Homo sapiens: one gene and its partner. The protein of the gene in region 2 interacts with the protein of the main gene of each other region in a pairwise test. Each region holds a gene or a part of one and is shown on either strand. Other genes may lie near its edges. The genes, in order: EFEMP1 and NR4A3.

Region 1 (11,690 bases), on a different chromosome or scaffold from region 2:
TCATGAGGGAGTTGGAGAAAATGGCTGCCAAGATCTCCTTTTTGTTCTTTTTCTTTTTAATCATAAAACGAAATTCACCAATTTTAAAATCAGATTGAAAAGTTCTTTCTGATCCCAGCATTTTTCCAAATGAATTGAACAAATTCAAGTGTTTTATAACTCTTGGCCCTTTTAAAAATTAACTATAATTGAAGCATCTTCTTGAACAGAGTTCTTTACAAAACACACACACACACACACACACACACACACACACACACACACACTTAAATCCAAGCAATTTCCTTGCAATATCTCTCTGTGGATATATAAACTTTTAACCTCTTACCTTGAATAGAGTTTCTACATTTGCCCTATTTAGTCAACAATAAAAGTCAAATATGCCATTTTTTATAAATTATCTGCTAGCAGCATATTATAAATTTCAAGCAGAAAAGTTTGTGGGTTATTTTTTAAGCCTTTCCACATTCTACAGTGAGAGAAGTTAGAAGTTAATGCTAGTTTATCAAAATAATTTATGCTTTAAAGTTCCTTGAAGAGCAGAGAGAAAATAATAACATCCATTGCATTTTTAGGCTTTGGTCTCAGCAGTTCCACTGGTATAGGATATGACATACTAGAGAAAAAAAGTAACAAATCAGTCTTATTAATGCTATATATTTTTTAATTCTAAATGTCGGCAAATACAAAATATCTATGATTTTGTTTAAACCATTGTTCTCTAAAAATTAATTTAAATATTTTCAAAGATATTTTAAAATCTGTTTTGTTATCTGTAATCAGCATCAAGATATAAGATTAACTGTTCACAAAAAGACAGATGAAGAGCATTTCTGTACTTTTCATCCACTAAGTGAAGGAAAAAATAATTCAAGTAAGGTAAAATAAAGTTGGAAAGTAGAAAAAAGAAAATTCTAAAAATCAACAAAATATTATGAAAATGTTCCAAATTGACAAAAGTGGAGTGATGATCCAGTTCTTTAAATTACATATTGAAATAAAATTACTAATTTTCATGGGTATTATTTCTAATTTCATGCTCCATAATACAATCATCCTGAAACCCCATCAGCCTTGATTAGCCAAATGAAGTTTCCGGATATCTAAGTTTGAAAGGAGAGAGTTGGGAACTTGTAGCTGAAAACAACAATTAAAAAAAAAACAGCTTCACATCTGTGTTCGCATCTGAAGTTGCTCTGTAAGATCTGATAACTTGTTAGAAAGCAATCTTTTTTGCAAGGCAGTAGATTTACATCATACATTTTTCTCTCTCCAAGGAAATTCTAATTACTGGTTCCAATCATTTCTGATTGATTTGCTTTTTATTCTTCCAAGGTATTCTCTGCTTTATGATGAAATCAAGCCTTCAATAAAATTCCAAAAATTTTAGAACAATTTACAAGCTCCAGATGACTGAAAGTTTTCTCATGTCCGTTTGGCATTCAGAAAGAGAGTTTCACCAAGTATATTCTGAAGAAGAATACATCTGGCACTCACTAAAACAAAGAACTCACCAGTGACATACTTGAGGCAAATTAATGTTGCGTAAATGCAAATTTGCCAATATTCTTTGAGGCCAAAGCTGCAATCCAACCTCCATATATTTCAATGAGTCCTCTTCTAATGCGCAGGCCACCAGTCACATGAGTGAATGTTTGGGGCATATTTTAGCAATCAATTTAATAACTACACATTATCTTCTATGTACAAATTTAAAATTGCTTATGTGTAATGTGGATTTTTTAAAGAAAAGACTTAGCATCTGTTGAAGACTTGCCTAAGTTCATGTCTTCTCTTGGCCTGATGCAAACTCCAAATCATTGACAAAAAGACAACATAGAAACAAAGAATTTTAGCCCTAGAAAAAAAATTAAAAACCATCTCTTTCAAAGACTTGTTTCAGTAATATAAAGCATATCAGAAATCCAAATGTGTATTCATCATGGGAATATTTTCATGGATAATGTAAATTCTGCTATTCAAAAATACTGAATTTTTATGCATCAATAAGAAAGCAGTCCAAGAAAATAAATAATTTAATCAACATTATTCTTGCAAGAGTCCATTATAGGGCTATCAGTAGTGAATGATCCATTTTTATCAATTCAGTAAGAATACTAGTGTTTTTAAATGAATTCTTTCTGTAAGAAGGAGAGGGTTTTTTCCATCAATTCTGGTTCCAGCCTTGGCTTCTCCTTCAGCAGTTTCCTAGGAGAATATACTTTCACAAATCAAGTGGACCCAAATGTTGCCTGGTTTGGATACATGGCCAGAAACTGTGGGCTAATTCTGTGATTCATATCTTGGTCTCTAGCATGCCAGGGATGCCCACTGTGGGTCCCCGTTGAACACAGTTACTCTACACTTTGATTAAGCACTCTTAAGACTCAGCCACACTGATAGTACATGTTTGATTAAGACACACATTCCAAAGGATACAGAGACATAGATCATAGTGCTCAGTGTGTGATCATCAACATCTGTGAATCTCTTCTAAAATTATGAGTTTGTCACCACATACATCTTCAAATCTTCCTTTTTTTTTTTTGAAACAGTCTTGCTCCGTCACCCAGGCTGGAGTGCAGTGGCGTGATCTTGGCTCACTGCAACCTCCTGAGTAGCTGGAATTACAGGCGCGCACCACCATGCCCAGCTAATTTTTGTATTTTTAGTAGAGAAGGGGTTTTGCTGTGTTGACCAGGCTGGTTTTGAACTCCTGGCCTTAAGTGAATCACCTGCCTCAGCCTCCCAAAATGCTGGGATTACAAGTGTGAACCACCGTGCCCAGCCCAAATCTTTAAAATCTCAGATTCCTCTGAGCTCAGAGCAATTTTAGGAAGGTGAATTTACTGCAATTTCCACTTGCATTCTGCTAAATCCATGCATCCAGTTTGAATCCATAAAGTTGGACTCCATTAAATAAATCATCCAGCAGGGTGCAGTGGCTCCCGCCTGTAATCCCAGCACTTTGGGATGCCGAGGCAGGTGGATCACAAGGTCAGGAGATCGAGACCATCCTGCCCAACATGGTGAAATCCTGTCTCCACTAAAAATACAAAAATTAGCCAGGTGTGGTGGTGTGCGCCTGTATTCCCAGCTACTCAGGAGGCTGAGGCAGAAGAATTGCTTGAGCCCAGGAGGCGGAGGTTGCACTGAGCCAAGATAGTGCCACTGCACTCCAGCCTGGGTGACAGAGGGAGACTCCATTTCAAAAAAAAAAAAAAAAAATTATCAAAATTTAAAATGTTTGCTCTCAAGAGACAGCATTAACAAATTGGAAAGACAAGACAAAGACTAGAAAGAATGTTCGAAAAATGTAAATCTGAAGAGGACTTGCAGGAAGACTATTTTTAAAAACTCTTACAACTAATAAGACCAAAAAATAAAGAAATGAACACAAATTTGAAATAAAATATATTGATGGACAATAAGCATACGAAAAGCAAAATTCAACATCACTGGACATCAGAGAAATGTAAAATAAAACCACAGTGAAATACCACTTACACACCCACCAGAATGGCTAACATTGTAAATTACTGACAATACCAGAAGTTGGCAAGGATTTCAGGCAAATTGAATCTCACATATTGCTGGTAAGAACATAAAATAACACACTCACTTTATAAAACAGTTTGACACTTTCTTATACTGTTAAACATACCCCTACCATATGACAGCAATTTCACTCCTAAGCGTTTATCTAAAAGAAAACATATCCCAGCAAAGACTTAGAAGTGAATGTCCGTAACAGATTTATTCATAAACAATCCAAGTATCTATTAAGATGTAAACAAACAAATCAGGGTATATACATACAATGGAATACTACTCAGCAATAAAAAGGAATGTGTTTCTCATACACCTAATAACAAGGATGCATCTCAAGCAACATGCTGAGTGAAGGAAGTCAGACCCGAAAGAGTATTTACTCTATGATTTCATTCATATGAACTCCCACTGCAAAAAGGCTGCAGGAGAACAAGGTTGTAAACAAGGAGACCAATTAGGAGGATGTTGCAATAATACAGTTGGAAAATGGTGGTGGCTTAGACCAGAGTGGTTGCAAAAGAGGTGATGAGAAGTGGTTCCATTCTGGATATATCATGAAGGTGAAGCCAACAGAATTTCCTGAAGGATAGAATGCAGGATATCTCAGAAAAAGAGAAATCAAGGATGACTCCATGGTCCTGAATCTGAGCAAATAGAAAGATGAAACTGCTTTAACTGAGATGGTGAAGGTGGGTGGAGTAGGTTGGGGGATGATAACAGCAGTTGTGTTCAGTTTGAAACATCCATTAGATGTCCAAATGAAGATAGCAAGTTGGCAGCTGGATATATAGGAACAGTTCCAGGCTGGAGATATAAATTTGAGAGTTTTCACCCCATTTTTCTGGAAAAGTGGCTGGGAACAGGTAGAAAGAGTTTAAGAGAAACAGGAAAAACCATGTGCACAGATCTTCTTACTGTACAAAAAGTAAAGATCCATTTAAAAAAAATCTGGAGGTCATTAATGACTTGGGGGAAAACACTAGAATTTTGATAGTAAAAATATTTGATACAATTACCAAAACTCTGTATACTCAAGTAAGGTTTAGGGAGGGTTGTACACCTCCCCTCTGATCTTGTCCAATACTGTGTGGCTTGCTACCAAACTGGCAATGTCTAGGTAACCCACACTGGATACCCCAGAGATAAAGAGAGCAGCTTCCACCTGATAACCTCCCTCTCCTGCAGTCGCTACCACCCTCCCACCTTGAGTCAGCAGGAAAGGAAAGGAGCTTTTCCTCTCCTCCTGAGCTCTGCCTCCTGCTCAAGGACAGAGTCAAAGTTTTAACCCCTTCAGTTTGTAAGTTTTCTCATTCATGAAATTGTATTTGGCCATTTGCTTCTTAGAAGACAGCTGCCTTGGAAGCAAGCTATTAGTATGACTTTAGAGTTGGAGCCTTCAGAGGTAACTGCAATTTGTGTGGTATGATTTGATAAAAACAGAAAAAAAGATTTTTCTCTCCAGATTCCTGAAATTCCACTATGAAAGGTGAAAGTGAAATGCCCAACTTTGAATGAGCAGTATTGGAGATTTCACTAAGTCAATAAGTGAAGAAAAGAGAAGCTATAGATGAAAAAAGAAACCCATAAAAAGGGAGACTTTTTATTATATATTGACAAATTATAGTTGTATATATTAATAGGGTACAAGGTGTTATGATTTTTTAATACAATGTGTAATAATTAAACCAAGCTAATTAATATATCCATCACCTCAAATATTTGACATTTTTTGTGATGAGAACATTTGAAATTTACTCTCTTAGTGATAATGAAATATACAGTACTCAATTATCAGCTTTATTCACGACACCGTGCAATTGAACTTTAAAAAAATCAAACTTTTCCTCTCTTTTTTTTTTAGATGGAGTCTCACTCTGTCACTCAGAGGGATGATCTCAGCTCACTGCAACCTCTGCCTTCCGGGGTTCAAGCGATCATCCTGCCTCAGCCTCCCGAGTAGCTGGGATTACAGGCACGTGTCTAATTTTTGTATTTTTAGTAGAGATGGGGTTTCTCCATGTTGGCCAGGCTGGTCTTGAACTCCTGACCTCAGGTGATCTGCCCACCTTGGCTGCCCAAAGTGCTGGGATTACAGGCATGAGCCACTGCACCCAACCCTTATTCATCCTATCTAATTGAGGCTTACACTCTTTGACTGTTATCTCTCCATTCCCTGCAACCCTAGCCTCTGGTAACCACCATTCTACTCTCTGCTTCTATGAGTTCAATTGTTTTAAGTTACTTTCAGATACTTGAGAACATGTGGTATTTGTGTTTCTACATTTGGCTTATTTCACTGTGCATAATGTTTTCCACTTCCATCCATGGTGTCACAAATGACAGAATTTCTTTTTTAAGGCTAAATAGTATTCCACACATACACACAGACACATAAAATGGAATACTATTCTCTTTTAAATTTTGTATGCCTAATAATTCATGGTTAAAGGACAAGATAATAACTATTTTTGAGTATCCCGCTGTGGAGACACGATCTCCTTTGATCCTTGCAGCAATGTGTAAGGTAAGTGGCATCATCTTCCTTCTATTAATGGTAGAACTGAAGATCAAAGAGAGTGTCTAACTTGCTTAGGGCTACATAGCCAAGTGGTGAAGCTAAACTCAGTCTAGGCTTACTTGATAGTACACTAACATTAAATGTCTAGGAGTAAATATCTAAAACAAACTGTAAGTCTTCTCTATTTACCATACAAATTATTCAAGTGAACTGCCATTTTTGCCTGGCTTGAAAGATACTTTTCAGAAGAATGGGCTCATATACACATGCACGCGCGCACACACACACACACAATGGAATACTATTTAGCCTTAAAAACGCATATATATCTAAAATATATGTGTGTACATATTTTATATATATATGTGTTTATATATATAATATATATTATATTTGTATACACACACACATATATGCCACATTTTCTTTATCCATTTATCCCTTGATGGACACTTAGGTTGATTCCATATCTTGGCAATTGTGAATAGTGCTGCAATAAACATGAAAGTACAGACGTCTCTTCAACACACTGATTTCAAATCTTCCCAGTAAATACCCAGAAATGAGATTGCTGGATCATATGATAATTCTACTTTCAGTTTTTTGAGAAACCTCCATACAATTTTCCATCATGTTTGTACTAATTTACATTCCACCAACAGCATACAAGCATTCCCTTTTCTCCATTCTTGCCAACACTTGTTATCATAAAGGGAGGTTTGAGAGACCATAAAACAAACCCCACCTCACAATTTTGTTAGTGCAAGTTCTATTTGGCCTATTCCCAACACTAAGCACACAGTAGGTGGCAAATATTTGTTGAATGGATGAATTCTCATTTTTCTCCATTTGTGGAAGCAGACACCTCCTCAAAAAAAAAAAAAAATCCGAAAGAAAAGGTAAAGGAAACAGTTCTATGAATGGGGGTTAATTTACTCTCCTAGCATTCACTTATTGGGAAAAAAAGTAACAGCAGTTTCTAGAACCCTCTGGTCTCTGAGGGAGATGCTGTGTTCCCCTCCTCAGAGAAGAAGAAAACGCACTAGAGAGTGGGAGCATCCCCAAGGCTGAAGCGCATCCAGGACATCACATGTCAACGTGTCCTCTCTGGCGTGGGGTCCCCGCGAGTCTGGGAAACGAGGAGCTGGCAAGGGAGGGCAAGCGGGGGCGGCAAAGAGGGCCCCTGGAGCAGGGGGCGCGGACCTCGCTGCGCTGCGCGCTCTACCGCCGGGCTCGCAACGCTGGGCTCAGCGCTCGCGCCTCCCTCAGCTCTCTCCTCCGCCCCCCTTCGCCCTCCCCCTTTCCCTCCCTTTCTCCTCCTCCTCCTGCCGCCGCGGCCGCTGCCGGACTTCGCCAGATCAGACCCACGGGGCTGCCCTCCCCTGCGCACTCCCCTCGCTGCCCGGGCCCGGAGCGCAGCGCGGCCGCACAGGTAGGAGCCCCCAACGGGGGGTCGCCCCGAGCGAGCCCAGTACTCACTGGGCCGCGCGCGGGAGAGTGAGGTGGGGTGAGCTGAGGGGTGTTGAGTACCCGAGAACTGCCCTGGACTGTGCAGGGTGTCTCGGGCAGAGAGGGAGGTGGAGGTGTGCAGCCTCGGAATGCGATCTGTCAGCAAGTGCGAGTACTCGGGTGACATCTGTTGGGATGGGCATGTGTGTGCGCGCCGACAACCAGCCGGCAGGGCTTTGCCCATAAACGTGGTTTTGAAAGTTTAGGGGACCAGTGTGCGAGATTTAAGCCGCACCTGGATTCCATAGGAGCTGGTTAGAAGCTGGGACGCTGAGCAGCTCCAGGGGACCGCCGCGTTAGCTTGCTGTTAAGAAAGGGGACCTCATCTCCCTGCCGGGCCAGGCCGCCCGCCCGAAACTGGTACCTTGGGCTGCGGTGCGATCCCTGGTTCCGGTCCTAGGCAGCCTGAAACCGAAGGTAGCGTGTCGGGGACCCAGACTGATAAGACAAAAGAGAATCAGTCGCTTTGGGCTGCCCCTCCACACAACCTGGGACTTTTAAACAAAGCTGTGCGCAGAGAAAGGCGTGGAAATGCCACTTTGAGAGTTTGTGCTGGGGGATGTGAGAAGCTCTGAGACATGTGAGAAGGTCTAGTATTCTACTAGAACTGGAAGATTGCTCTCCGAGTTTTGTTTTGTTATTTTGTTTAAAAAATAAAAAGCTTGAGGCCAAGGCAATTCATATTGGCTCACAGGTATTTTTGCTGTGCTGTGCAAGGAACTCTGCTAGCTCAAGGTGAGTATACTGGGAAAGCCTTAACGTTCTAGAGAACAGAGTTTTGCAGCCCCACCTCCATCCCCCGGGGTGTGGGACTGGGGGGCAGGAAATGCACCGTCCCCTTTGAAATGGATTACTGTTTTTTCCTTTCGACCCCCTCTTTCTGCAGCCTGCTTTGTAGGTGCAGTATAAAATGCACGCTGAATGTCTTTTGTATGTAAACAGCGTAGCAGGATGGAGTAACGTGAAATGCAATTCTACAGCAGTTTTTACGTCTTTGCTGCCTCGTTCGTTGGCTACCGAGAAGGTTCAGGAGGGGGAGGGGAGATGAGAAAGCAGATTGGAAGTTGAGTATGGTGGAGCCTCAGCCTCTCCCACCCTCCTTTCCTCGCTTGTGCTCACTGCTAAAGTTTTGTTACTTTCCCCGCAGCAGATACTAAACATTAGTTTGTCCTGTATTTTCTTTGAGATTCACAATGTTGAAAGCCCTTTTCCTAACTATGCTGACTCTGGCGCTGGTCAAGTCACAGGACACCGAAGAAACCATCACGTACACGGTAAGGGGTGATGGAATTTGAAATAAGTACGGTTCAGCGGGATTCTGTGACAAAAAAAGACTTTACACACCCCTGCCAGTGTATTTGGGCTATACTCTGCTGAGGGTGATAAATTAAACAACACTTCATTCATGCTTCATATCTAAGATTCGTTGTAAATTGCCCCCTTGATCCTTTCAAAAGTTCATTGGGCTCACCACCTAAGATAGGAACCAACATGTAATCATTTGTGCAGGGCTAAAAATGGGATCCGTTCAAAAACTAAAACCAAAGAAAGTTACATGTTTCCAAAACATTCAACAAATTAATGGGTGTAAGGAACTGGAAAACCTGGACTCCTACCACATGCAGATAAAACCAATACGTGCAGAATAAGACTCAAGTCAAGTAAGAACGTTAAACACCATAAAGACACATGGCCTTCTTTGTGTACATGACATGCATTCTCAAGTAAGTGGCCTTTATTGAATTTATAAAGGCTATATATTCATTCTTTTTGTATAACTTGATAATTCTAATAAATAAAGGCAGACAACAGTTTATGTGTTACCAGGATGCATATTGGCTAAAGTGGTTTTAAAACGTAATGTGTGCAACTCCGTTTTGCATTTTCTAATTAGCGTCTCTGATATTTCCAAGTAATATTTGATTAGTTAGTTGCATAGGTGTAACCAATGTTTAATAAAATATTAAAAAGATCACCTGACCCCTCCCACTGCTACAAATAGTTGTGGTGAGAACAGAGAAGGACAGTACTGACTTCACTTCTGGTGAGTTTGTTTGCACCTCTGTTCTGTGTTTTCTTGTCTTTAATCAGTGTTAGGCAAATGACATTTGTCCTGGATTGGAATATGAAAAGCACATTTTTCTACTGCTCCCAGTTTAAAATTAAGTAATCCTACTCGAAAGAATGTGAAAAATTTTTGAAAAGAAAACTCTTAAAAATGAACTAATGTCAATTACTGATAATAAACATTATCTCACTTTTTGGTACCACATTATCCCTAGAATGTTAGTATTCATCTGGCAAATGTTCCTTTCTGTTGTTCAGATCCACTATAAATAAAATAGCTTAATACAAATATTTTGTTAACTTCATGTTAAATGCAGTTGCTTCCTCTGCTGAAGATAAATTAAGCAAGAAAAATGAAGGCATGTGCTGTTTATCTTAAAATGAAAATGTTTTGTTATTCAGACTAAACTTACTGCCTTCTCAGGGAGCTAAAATTAAATTCACTACCCACTTTTATAATCATCTCATAAAAGATTTTACTTCTTTTCCAGTTGCTTATCTTCTATGCCCTTCCCTTTGCTAATCACCTAAATCTTCCTCATTTTTACCAGAGAAGGTTCCCTGTGGCTTAAACATGATAGTTTTAAGACCACTAACTAGGGTTCATTATTATTGTAACAAATTTTCCAGATATGTTACCCTTTTGTGCTAAGATTGGGCCTATTCTCCTTTAAATTTTGTATGCCTAATAATTCATGGTTAAAGGACAAGATAATAACTATTTCTGAGTATCCCGCTGTGGAGACACGATCTCCTTTGATCCTTGCGGCAATGTGTAAGGTAAGTGGCATCATCTTCCTTCCACTAATGGTAGAACTGAAGATCAGAGAGAGTGTCTAACTTGCTTAGGGCTACATAGCCAAGTGGTGAAGCTAAACTCAGTCTAGGCTTACTTAATAGTACACTGACATTAAATGTCTAGAAGTAAATACCTAAAACAAATTGCAAGTCTTCTCTATTTACCATACAAATTATTCAAGTGAACTGCCATTTTTGCCTGGCTTGAAAGATACTTTTCAGAAGAATGGGCTCGTATCCACATAATAGCCTCATAGTCCTCTTCCATATTAAAGATGGTGTCCATTCAGCTGTTTACTCAACAACTATCTGCATAAGCAATTCTCATCACTATTAAAAGAATTTGTTTGTTTACTAAGAAAATTCAGTCTCCTCTTGGAGAATTTAGCCTGGGAAGACAGTGTTGAAAACTACAAAGTTCCTAAGCAAGGACAAATGATACTATTATACAGATTATACAAATTGCCAAGGAAATAGAAAAGCAAGGAGGTGATTAATGTTGGTGCCAGCATATTAGAGGAGACAGAACTCTGTGCTGGTTCTTGAAGGAAGTGATGACCTTGGTTGGATTGATCTAGAAAGGCTGAAGAGGCACCTGAGTCAGAGAGTGGCATAATCAAAAGCTAGAGCTGAAAGCACCTGAGACCAATCCAGGTGGTGATAAGGTCAGATCAGCTGGAACTGGGTAGTGGGAAGAACCCAGAGATGGTGATGATGAGAGATCTGCAGGTCACTGTGAGGTCTCAGAGAGAGGAGCAACATAACCAAGAGCACAAGAAAGATCATGGGGTCTGTATGCAGCATGTAGAGATGCGGGGCCTTGCCTACTCATGGGCCAGCAAAAGCCTTTCTTAGTAGACATGGTAGAAATGGACACAAAGTCAGCAGAGATGGAAGGAAAATAAGTGGAGCATTCAGCACTGATGTTAAAGTTGGAATCCTGGGTTTCGAAAAAGGTAGTGGTACCTTTAACACTGTTTGGGAAACAAGAAAAAAATTAGTCTGAGAGACAAAGTGAATTTAGTTCTCGCTCCAGTAAGTTTCAGACATCAGTAAAATATCTAAATGGATCTCTGGGCTTCCATTCAGCTATTTCCTTGTCAAGCATCCATTGTGTACATAAGCAGCTCTCAGTTATATTAAAAGAATTTAAGTTTATTTGTTTGTTTACTCCACTTTTGCTCAATCCTTCCTTGGGCTTCTTCCTTACAGTGACTTTCTCAAATGAGCGTCTGATCAGATTGTT
Region 2 (11,064 bases):
GCCTTCTGCACACAGGGAAGTGAAGTCCCTGCCCACCCTGTGTGTGTACTTTTCTCTGATGGAGCCCAGCAAGAAGGAAAGCCAGCCGGCCCAGCCTGCCAGGCTCCAGCCAGATCCTCTGGGCTTCACCTGCAGTGGTTTTGGTCCAAGTCTCAGAATTTTGGAGCCAAAGTGAATTCAGTCTGAGCCACCAGTAACTTGGGGGTGACTGGAGGGTCAGCATCCAATGCTGGAGGAAAAGAAAAATCTCCTCTATTGGACATAAGATGTAAAGGAACGGAACAAAACGTTTTAGATTTTTTCTCTGCCTGGCCTACCAGTTTAGGAAAACCTCACCCAATGAATACTGGTCCTAGAGTTGGAAGGACTGGACTCCCAGCTCTGTGTCTCTGCTGCCCTACATTGATTGCTCTGTCTCTGGGCTAAGTAGGTTTGGGGTTTGACAAAGAAAATCTAGAAATATTTGCTTACTGATCATGCCAATCGAACATAGGTCAAATGCAAAAAGATTTTTTTAAATGAACTTTTTTCCTGTTTATACTAATTTTTTTCCACCCTATAGGGGTTATTGATCTGTCAGAACTCTGGCTTTCTCACTAGTCAAAGACACAGTATTACATTTACTGACAGCCAATGCCTAAGGAAGGTTTCTCTAAAGCACCTAGAATGGGAATCTAGAGCTGCAAACAACAGCAATGGATATTATGTAAACTAAAATGGGTCTGTGTGTTTCATATGGCAGTAACGCAGCTATACAAGTCAGACTTCAGCAATAGCCCAGGCCCCAAATGAGATATTTGTGTGGAAATTAAGTGAGACCCATGGAAAACACCACCCCTCAAAAATTAGTGATGTGAGGCTTTAATAGCAGAGTGGAATCTAATATTTACTCTATCTCACTTTCAGCCCTGGCTAAATATGTAGACTACGCTAAGGACACGTTTTTCTCCCCTTAAAATGTTACTTTTCTCAACTATAGCTCTAAAAATTTTAGATGTGATCATTGTATAAGTCAAACTATGTATACATATTCTTAGGTTCTTACACTTTAAAAAGTGACATTTTAAAAATTGGCAATGAATATATTTTCCCCCCAATTTTTTCTTTTCTGATCTAACTCTATGCCCCCACTCCAAAAAGCAAAAAGCAAAAAATTCCTCTCCTCCCACCAATGACATCACTGCAATTGTATATTTGTTTACTCTTTTTCTCCTTTACAGGTATGTAAGGTTCATGTGGATAAGGGCTTTGTCTTGTTCAGCAACGTGTCCATTGCCCTGGAACAGTGCCTACTACCTAGCAGCCATTCAGTAAGTATTTGTTAAATGAATTGATTGCTTTCAGGAAAATTTATATCTCTATTGCTCATCCCTTCTCAACCCCAGGAAAAGCTGGAAAATTCAAGGTAAAATTGAGTTGTTATTATAAACTATATCGATGGTTCTCAAACCTTAGTGTGCCAAAGAATCATCCAATGGCACTTTTTAAAGTACAGATTTTTGCCTGCCTCTCCTTCTTCCCAGTTCTGATTCAGTATGTCTGAGTGGGTATGGCCTGGGAATCTGCATTTTAAAGCAAACACCCCACCTCTTTCTCGTAGGAGCAGTCTGGGCACCATGTTTTAGGAAATGCTGACCTGTACTCATAGTGGAACTATAGCAGTTATTAATATTATGGTCAGAATATCAGGGAATGAGAAGCCTGGAGAGATAATGGGAATGAATTTAGCTTAATCTCTTTACCATTTGGATCAGGAAACTGGCCCACAGAGGGGCAGGAACTGGCGTGAAATCATCTGGTGAATTGGTAACAATTTGAGAGGGTCTTCTGAGATGCTTCATGAAACCACTCTTTTTGCAGCTTCATTCTGTTTACCTTGTAGTTCTAACGTGTCTTAAGCCACATTGTTTCATAGGCTATCTTGTGAACACATTTAAATGCCATTTGCTGGTGCCTGGTTTTATCTGAGCAGCACCTCTCGTATTTGCAAGTCTGTTACTCCGTTAAGTGGCACTGATTACCAGAAAACATCCTAGTATGCTGAAAAATACTTGAAATGATCAACTAATGAGGACACTAAGTATGTTTTCTCATTAGTAATTATGCAGGCTCTGAAGCTAATCCCAGTATCTATACATACTTGTATTGCTAAATTAAAAGCAACTGTGGTGCAGAGAACAGAAACATTTTGAGGAGAGACAAATCAAACGTGACATGTTTTGACTGCACTGATGTACAATGATCTGAGCTCACTTTTGAGGGAGAGAAGTTTGGCCCAAAGGAGAACTGAAGGTCCCAGAGCCAGGAATGCTTCACAGAACTCAGGAGCTCTTTCTGGCCTCTAAAACATTCATTTCCTCTGTGACTTGGAACAAAACCCCTCCACCTCCCATTCCCACAAATGGAGAAAACTGCTCACTTACTACCTTAAAGGAACACATGCTAGTACATGAAGATTAAAACATACTGGGCTGGCAACACATTTCCTCCTTTCTCTATTGACCTGACTCACTGGGGGAAGCTAGCATCTTTAATAAATTGTAGGGCTCAAATCAACTCTCAAACTTGACAGGGCAAATTCTTATTTATAATGTAATAGATTATGGATACACACTAAAACACGGCTAAGGAGTGGGATCGGGCAGCTATAAATGAAGTAGAGACTTTCATTTTTCATTTTATCCACTTGTAAATGGTTGCCTTTAAAAAAAAACCCCAATGGATATATATTACTATTATTGTAATTTAAAAATATTTAATAAAGTTTATATGTTCAAAAATATAATAAATTGTCATTAAATAGAAGTGACAGTATGATGAAATAGAAACCTATTGAGTGATGAGATCTGGATTTTGTCCTCTACTCTGTCACCGACATTAGGCAAGCCAGTTAACCCCTTTAAACCTTAATTTACTCTTCTGAAAATATGGGACTTGGATTAGATGATCCCAAGGTCACTCCAGTTTTATGAATTTGTATATGTAAAACTTTAAGAAGGAAGGTATTATGAAAACTGAATTTCAGTGAATGACATTATTAAGGAAATTACTCAAACCATAAATAATACCACACAGAGCTGGAGTCTTAAGTGAAATTATGTAAGAATATATGTGATGGTCAGCAAAGGAAACAATTTAAAAAGTGAAATACTACAGAATGGGAGAAAATTTTGCAAACTATCCATCCGACAAGGGATTAATAACCAGAATATATAAGGAATTCAACTCAATAGCAGAAAAAAAATCTATTTAAAAATAGATAAAAAACCTAAATAGACATTTTTCAAAACAAGACATAGAAATAGCCAACAGGTATGTTTAAAAATGCTCAACATCACAAATCAACAGGAAGATGCAAATCCAAACCACAAGGACATATCATCTCACCCCAGTTAGAATGATTATTATTAAAAAGACAAAAAATAAATGCTGGTGAGAATGTAGAGAAAGGGGAGCACTCATATACTGCTGATGGGAATGTAAATTAGTATAGCCATTATGGAAAACAGTATGGGGGTTCCCCAAAAAGCTAAAACTAAAACTACCTTAATTACTCCCTGTGTTGATGAACTCACACTTCCACAGCAGCTAGTATGGCCAACACTTGTTATCAGACAAGTGAGCGGGAAGAGGCCCCCCTCCTCTCTCTAGATCTGTCTTTGGGAGAATAGTTCTTTTTGCCATAGGGCAAAAGAGTGACCCAATTTCACCAAATCTTTTCCCTTCTTGCCTACATATTTCTGTTTCCCCCAATCATCCATTACAAGTTCCCAGAAACAGTAAATCCCAGCTTAGAACTGGACTCAATTCACGAAGAACAGTCTGACAGGACAGAGTCCATGCAACCATCATCAACTTGGGTCTGCCCATACTCCTACTACTGCAGCTGAAGGTAATGTGGCATCCCTCCCTTCTACCACACACGTTCTTTGTTGGTTCATTTTGAGTGTATATGGAATAAACTCCCCAGATCTTCTTAACATGAACCACTTTGCCAAGGCTCTCCCATTTGTTTAAATTCTAAATGCTGAGCTTCAGATTTATTTTTGTTAACTTTCTTTGTGATGGTTTCAGCCCTTCCTGTTCCAACCTGTCGAGATCACTCTGAATGTTGATACTGACATCCATCATATTAGCGATCCCTCCCAGCTTTCTGTCATTTGCAAATGTGATCAGCATGCTTTTATGCTTTCATCCAAGTTTTTGATGAAAACTCACTGTATTTTTAAAAAGTCTTTTAATTTAGTTGATTTGGGTCCAATTTTTGATAATTGTGTAATGCCATCTAAAAGCAGGGGAATCCAAGTTATGAGGTTCAACCTGATTCCAAAATAATGCAATTAAAATAAATATGCTTTGCAAAATTGAGCCAGGCCCCAAAGGTAGTACCAATGTGACCCAGGCTCTGGCATGGTCAATCTGCTATTTTGGACAAAGCTAACAATTAAATTGGATAAATGTTTGTTGATGAGGATGATGACTCTAGACTAACAGACTGAATGGTGCAGAGGCAAGCAAACACACTAGATTGATTTTTCAGTGTGGGGACAGTTCCCAGCTGGGACAACTCAAAGTGCTGGGAAAGGTTTGCCATTGAATGACTAATTAGGCCATGTAGACTGATAATTGGATAATTTGGGGCCAAAAAATTACTTTTGAGGCCTAAATTATCTGTACTGACCATCTATTGTGCTTTCAAATGCCCTGGAGCAATGTCAGATTGTGTGCTATAGCCTTAGCCTAGGCAGTGCTAAGAAGCTTCACTAATTCAGATGAACTGCCTTTGGAGAGGCCAGGGTGCTTCTGGGAGGAGAACTCTTCATTCCTGAATACTTTTCTAGCACCCACTCTCACTGGAACCAGAGAGGCAGTGAAGCTTGGTATTTAGGAGCCCAGATTTTAGGTTCAATACACTTGGCTCTTAATATACTTGGCTCCTAATTCTGTCTCTGCTGCATATTAGTTCAGTGACCTTGGGCAAGTCAGCCCTTTAGCCTCTCCCAGTTTAAATTTCCTTATCTGTGAAATAGAGATCATAATACTTATCTTTAGAGTGTTCTGCATGATACCTAATGTAGTGTTCATGCTCATTAGGACATTGAACAAATGGCAGAGTAAGAAAGTTTGGCCAAGGAAATAACATACAGGGCACTGTGCTAAAGCTTTGACAAGTATAATTGTTAATTAATCTTCACGAACAACCCCAGGAAGTAGATATTACTATTACCCCACAACACAGAGGAGAAAACTGAGGCATCAAAGGGTGTAATCAGTTGCTCAAGGTCACTTAGCTAGTAAAGGACAGTGTTGGGATTTTCATCTAGGCCCGCATGATTCCAAAGAAGCCTAAACTGTTAACTTAGTCTTATTATTCTGCTTTATTCTCTTACACTATTATTTGAGACTTGATTGTAGTCAAGAGCCACTACTTATAATCAGAATAAGAGTCCTCAACCTTTGATGCTAAGGATCTACCATGCTTCTCATATGACGTTTTGTTATCAGGTGCAGAGAGGAGGCTTCGCAGCCTATAATGAGGGTGGGGAAGAGGGAAAGAGGATCACAGCAGGTACACTAATCATTTCTATCAACACTGCAACCTAAGGAGAAGGGCACATAGCAGGGACACACTCACACTGTTTGCCAGCCATTCAGCCAGAAGCTTGAAACACTGATTAGACCTGGGGAGGGCAGTTTGGTAGTAGCCACCAAGACAGATCAACCGACTGGGGGCCTCTGGACTGGTATTTCTTTATCTGAGTGCAAGCTGTGTTTCTAAGGTTTTTTGTTTTTGTTTTTGTTTTTGTTTTCCTTCAAGTAGGAGGGATAATGATTCCTACAATTCATGGTGGTTTAAAGGATTAAATGAGATAATGTACCACAATGTCTAGCATATAGAAACTGCTCAATAATTGTGATTTTTTTTCCTTCTCTTCCCTCTTCATTGAGACCCTGTTTTGCTAGAAGTTTAGTTTTCTAAGTCCTTTAAAGAAATTGCCTTACAGAGCTGTTTATTCATTTGCTCAGGAAATCCTTTCTCATGGTTCTTCTCTGTGTTATCCAAATTTTGAGGAATTTGCAGGGTTCAGACTGATGGGATTTTACTATATCCCATATGAAATAAAAATGTTGATATGTTTTGGTTGACTTAACTATAACAACACCAATCGTCATTTATGGTCTTAAAAACATTTTCACAACCATCATTCTTGTGTGACTGGTGTTCAGAACACCCCTCTGAGGTTAAATATTGTAGCCATTTCCACTGTAGGCAGGAGAGAGCCAAAAGCAGGAACCAGGTGACACAGGCAGGAAGTAGCAGAGGTGGCGTTCCATCCCAGTTCTCCTGACAACTGATGTCACAGCCAGAGCTCGCTTCTCTCCACCAATGGTCTAATCCCTCTGAATAAGCAGCAGGTCAATCAATGCTGATGCAATTGGATAAACTGCTTAGTAATAACTTGAGGCTCACCCAGATGGTTTGAACACAATATGAAAAAAAACAGTAGTCACTTTGTCTAGATCACGAGATAAATCTACAAATTGTAGTTTGTCTGTGCAGATTTTCATTGGCACAACCACCAGGAATCCTGCAACAATGTGTATGACAGGTGCAGCACTGTCAGGGTCACTTGTTAAGGCATTTAGAGATTCAATAAGGCAAAAATTATTTGCTGCAATGGATGCACTGAATTGCTAAATGAAGCGAGAAATATAGAAAAAGTATGAAAACTGTCTAACATGGTGCCAGACACAAAATCATTCAATCAACTCTTATTACTAGTAGCCATAAATAGAGACCCTGATCATTCATTTGAAAGCAGGAAATCATAAAACTTACTCTGGAATAATCAAGATCTCTGGGTGTTGAGTCTGTTAAAGCTCGGACAAGGGCATTCATCATGCAGATTGGAGGAGAAGGTGGAGAGGGCTGAGAAGGTTCCTGTTGTAATGGGCTCTTTGGTTTGGAAGGCAGACGACCTCTCCTCCCTTTCAGACTATCTGTACGGACAACTGATGCCAAAAGAGACAAAGAAAACAATCTTCAAAGATTATGGAATGAACGACCATAAATCGCAAAAAGGAATAAAAACACATTACAGTTGAGCAATCATTAATGAGACCAACCATTTAAAAGTGGTAATAAGTTTGGAATAATATTCACACAATGATTTCATGAGAGTTGAAACAAGCAGCATAAAAGCCACCGATATTTACATTTGGTAATGAATTAGCCCTAAAAGTCTCCTTCTTAAATAGAACAAAGATGTATGTATACAAGTCCTCTGTTAATTTTGAGAAATTAGAATAAATAGTCCTCAGTTATTTTAAAATGTAGATATATATGATAAAAATAAAATGTTGAAAGGAAAAAGGAACTAGAAAAATTCACCATCCCAATGTAAATATTAGCTTTTTTTCACTGATTTCTGATAATATGTATAAGCAAACTGGGTAAAAAGCATTATATCCATACCTTCTTTTACCATTCCAACACTGAGACACTTCTGAAATCGACAGTACTGACATCGGTTTCGACGTCTCTTGTCTACTGGGCAGTTTTTATTTGCCAGGCAAACATATTTTGCATTTTTCTGCACTGTTCTCTGAGAAAATATAATACAAGATAGTCAACTGATAGTTTCTGGAAAGAGGTAGGACCTGACAAGATGTATTTTAATTACAATGTGAAAAGCGACAGTGCAATTCGTATAATTCGATAAATTTAATTTCCTAAAACGCTAGCCTGCAGGAAAAACAATTTTATTAGTGTTAGCTGCTGACAATGAAAATCATCTCGGATTGTTCTAAAGCAAGTCTCAGGAGACACCCAACTCTGAATGATAAAATCATATCTGAAATTACCAGGTCAACATATCATACCTTGGAGAATTAGATTATCTCCACTTTTAATATCCCTTTGGGAACAATTTTCTACTTGTTCCACTCCCCTGATTATTGCTGACCTTATTAAAATAAAATCAAAATTATCTGGGATGTACTTTGTTTGCTATCACTATTGTAAGTCAAATATCACAGTAACTGGCTTTGTTACCCAACAGAGATGAAATCATAAAAACCAAAATCAGGATTTTTCTAATTAAAACATATAGGAAATAATGTTTTAATGCAAAAAAACTAACTTAATCAGCCTGTATAGCTTATTTTATCTTTAAAGACCATATATGATAAACAGTCCATTCCTGATTTTTCAAAGCAAAATCTTAAAAGTAGTTATTACAAATCATTATTATATCCAAGGAAGAAAACAAAAAACCCCAAGGTACAAACGAAAAATGAGACAAAGAAAGATATATGACAGCCATATATTTTCAGTGAAAATTCCTATTAATAGGTCATTTCATAAATGTCTATTGACATAGACACAGTAACCATATTGTAAAAAAAATCATAAAACTTAAGGTTGGATAGAAAAATGATGTTGTATTTTTCAGAATCCATATAATTTGGAAATGACACATGGAGAAATAAACATATTTCGTCCTCCAAATTTAAACAAATGCTTGCTTTTTAAATTGAAAACATTTGTGCAAATGAACGTATTTTTACCACTTAGGGTGAAACTGTTCAGAAATTACCTGGATCTATACAACTCCAAATAGAGCAGAAAGTTGAAATTTATTTGGGAAGCCTGGGCTGCATTAATAAAAAAAGAAAATAAATCCAGGTAACTTGGGCTTTATGATCTATTTTGTGTTCAAACATCTAGATTTGCTTTTTAACATTTACTTCCAGTCATTCTCAACCCCCATGTTTCAGTTTTACCCTGTTACCTTTTAATTTCATTTTAGGGGATAGTTTCTAGATTGCTTATATAAAACTTAATATAACAAAGCCAACCTATGTCAAGTCTAAGACATGTTTCTCCCACCATAGTAGGTGATTTTAGTTTAAAATGCAAAATTCTGAAACACAGGCATACTTCTGAGGTTCCAGCATTTAAATTCTTAGCAGTCTGTAAGGGTAGGAAACGTGTGTTTCCTGAATAAAGCTTTCATTGAACATGCAGTAATTTCTAACACTCTATTTCTTGCCATCATCCTCAAGGCTTTATGCCAATTTGAGTGCTGATGGCATTTTGCTTCAGGTATACATTTTCCCAATAACCTGAAGCCTTCCCTACATTTGTGTTTAAGGACAGGGAGAGATCATTATGGTTCAATCACCGAATTCCTATCATTAACTGCACTTCATGTCACATTTTTAAAGAACTCAATTTAATGGTAGAAAGCCACTGGGTAAAACCTGCTCCGGTTCCCTTAATTAACAGTTCTGTGGGGTGATTCTCCCCCATCTTGCCCCCACCCTTTCAAGTATAGATTTGTTTTCGAGGGATTGCTGCAGAAAAGAGAAGCTGTTGGGGAACACTTAATTGACATTTCTGGACTCAGAATGTATTACCACTCTGGTATTTTGGTCAACTCTCCATTATTTAGAGATAATTATATTTGTAGATTATTCATAATTCTTGTTTTTTTCTTTCCCCCTTTCTGCTGCCAGTTTCACTGTCCTTCAGCATTTTCCACTGAAATCCTGTAAAAATCAAATCTGCTAAAGGAATGCAGTTACTTGAAAGTAGCTCTGATAAAGCTTGAGTAGTTAAAACAAAAAATGGCCAAACTCAGTGGCTAAAAAATAAAATAAAATGACCAAGATTCTGCATTTAAAACATCATAATCCCAAATATCTGTAGGGCACTTAACGTATTGCAGTCTTTCCCCAAACATTTTCTCATTTCTCTGCAGAATTCAGGTAGTGATATTTACAATCTGAAGATCAAAAATAATTGTTGCTTGTTGCTATGTATATCCCTCCACAAATGTGCATTTTTACAAAACTTTATAGCTTTTGTTTAATAATGAACTATCTGTACAGCTCTTTAAAGATTATAAAGCACTTTCATATATATTTTTATCTCATTGAATACACAGCTCTTCTCTGAGTTTTATTCATTGATAGGGAAACAGGCTTAGAATGAAGTGTCATGCCCAACATGATACAATTGGAAGGTGGAAGATCAAGGTCTTCTATTTGAGTCTTCTCTCACTAATTCTGGTGTACTCCCAGATATATCCTATTGGCCTCCCAAATCCAAGTTACCCAGTCAGCATCCTGCTTTCTCTTTCTTTCTACCCTGTCCAGCACTAGAGGATAAGGAATAATTTGTGTGGGTTTGTAAATGACTGAAATAATGGCCAGTGGGGTGAGGAGTGAGAAGGATGGCACAGAAGTAAGTGTCTGATAAAGTCTGGGAGTCAACAGCAAAAGGTAGCACAGCAAAAGAGCAAGGTCTTTTCCCTAAGTGGCAGAAATAACACTGAACTCAGGAGTCAGGACAAATCAGCTGGAAACATCTCATGGGCAGTTAAATCACTGCTTACAGCCTGCATAAGGCTTCACCGCTCCAGGCCTCAGCTTCCTCGTGGGTAAAATATGGGGGAGGCTGATGGCCCTCCCACTGTAAAATTTCTCCGTTAGGCCTATGAGGGAATGAATTATGTCTACACCTGGCACCGCATGTGATACAGAGGTAGGGAAAGGTTCCTAGAGGACACAAGACCCCAAGTTCTATCTTCTATGGAAAGAGGCAGCTCTTTCCATAGAAGAAGACAGTTGTCCCTGTCTCCTAGAGCTGCAGAGCTGTGAAAAGGGAATGGACTTTGGGGTCACGCAAACGTGGGTTGGCATCCTGCCTCCATCTCCCTTCTCTGAAGGTGTGTCCTGAGGCAGCTGATTAACCTCTTCAAACCTCAACATCCTCATCTACAAAACAAAGAAAATTAAAACACTGTTTTAAAACACTGTTACTAAAAATAGCTAGTGAGTGGCCAGAATTCAATCTTAGATGTGTCTGACTCTAGAGCCCCAGCTCTTACTGTAAGGATTAAATGAGACACAAATGTCCAGGGCTTGGTACGCACACACTATCCCCTCAGACACCCTGGATGGACAGACAAAGCAATGAGGTTTTTGCATTTTCGAAGTCACAGGTCCTTTTAAGACTCTGCTGAAAGCTCTCCAGAAAAATGTTCATAGGGCAGT

What was found.
Region 1: the proteins of NR4A3 (region 2) and EFEMP1 interact in binary tests that used the Homo sapiens proteins (3 or more experiments, as listed by UniProt).

The regions. Positions count from the first base shown.
Region 1 is NC_000002.12:55,919,523-55,931,212, reverse strand, and holds the start of EFEMP1 (EGF-containing fibulin-like extracellular matrix protein 1 precursor), read left to right. Parts: upstream 1-7,430; 5' UTR 7,431-7,502; intron 7,503-8,273; 5' UTR 8,274-8,314; intron 8,315-8,765; 5' UTR 8,766-8,772; coding exon 8,773-8,853; intron 8,854-11,690. UniProt on the Homo sapiens protein: Binds EGFR, the EGF receptor, inducing EGFR autophosphorylation and the activation of downstream signaling pathways. May play a role in cell adhesion and migration. May function as a negative regulator of chondrocyte differentiation.
Region 2 is NC_000009.12:99,829,232-99,840,295, reverse strand, and holds part of NR4A3 (nuclear receptor subfamily 4 group A member 3), read right to left. Parts: intron 7,608-11,064; coding exon 7,478-7,607; intron 7,015-7,477; coding exon 6,842-7,014; coding exon of another isoform or gene 6,764-6,841; exon of another isoform or gene 5,995-6,763; intron 1-5,994. UniProt on the Homo sapiens protein: Transcriptional activator that binds to regulatory elements in promoter regions in a cell- and response element (target)-specific manner.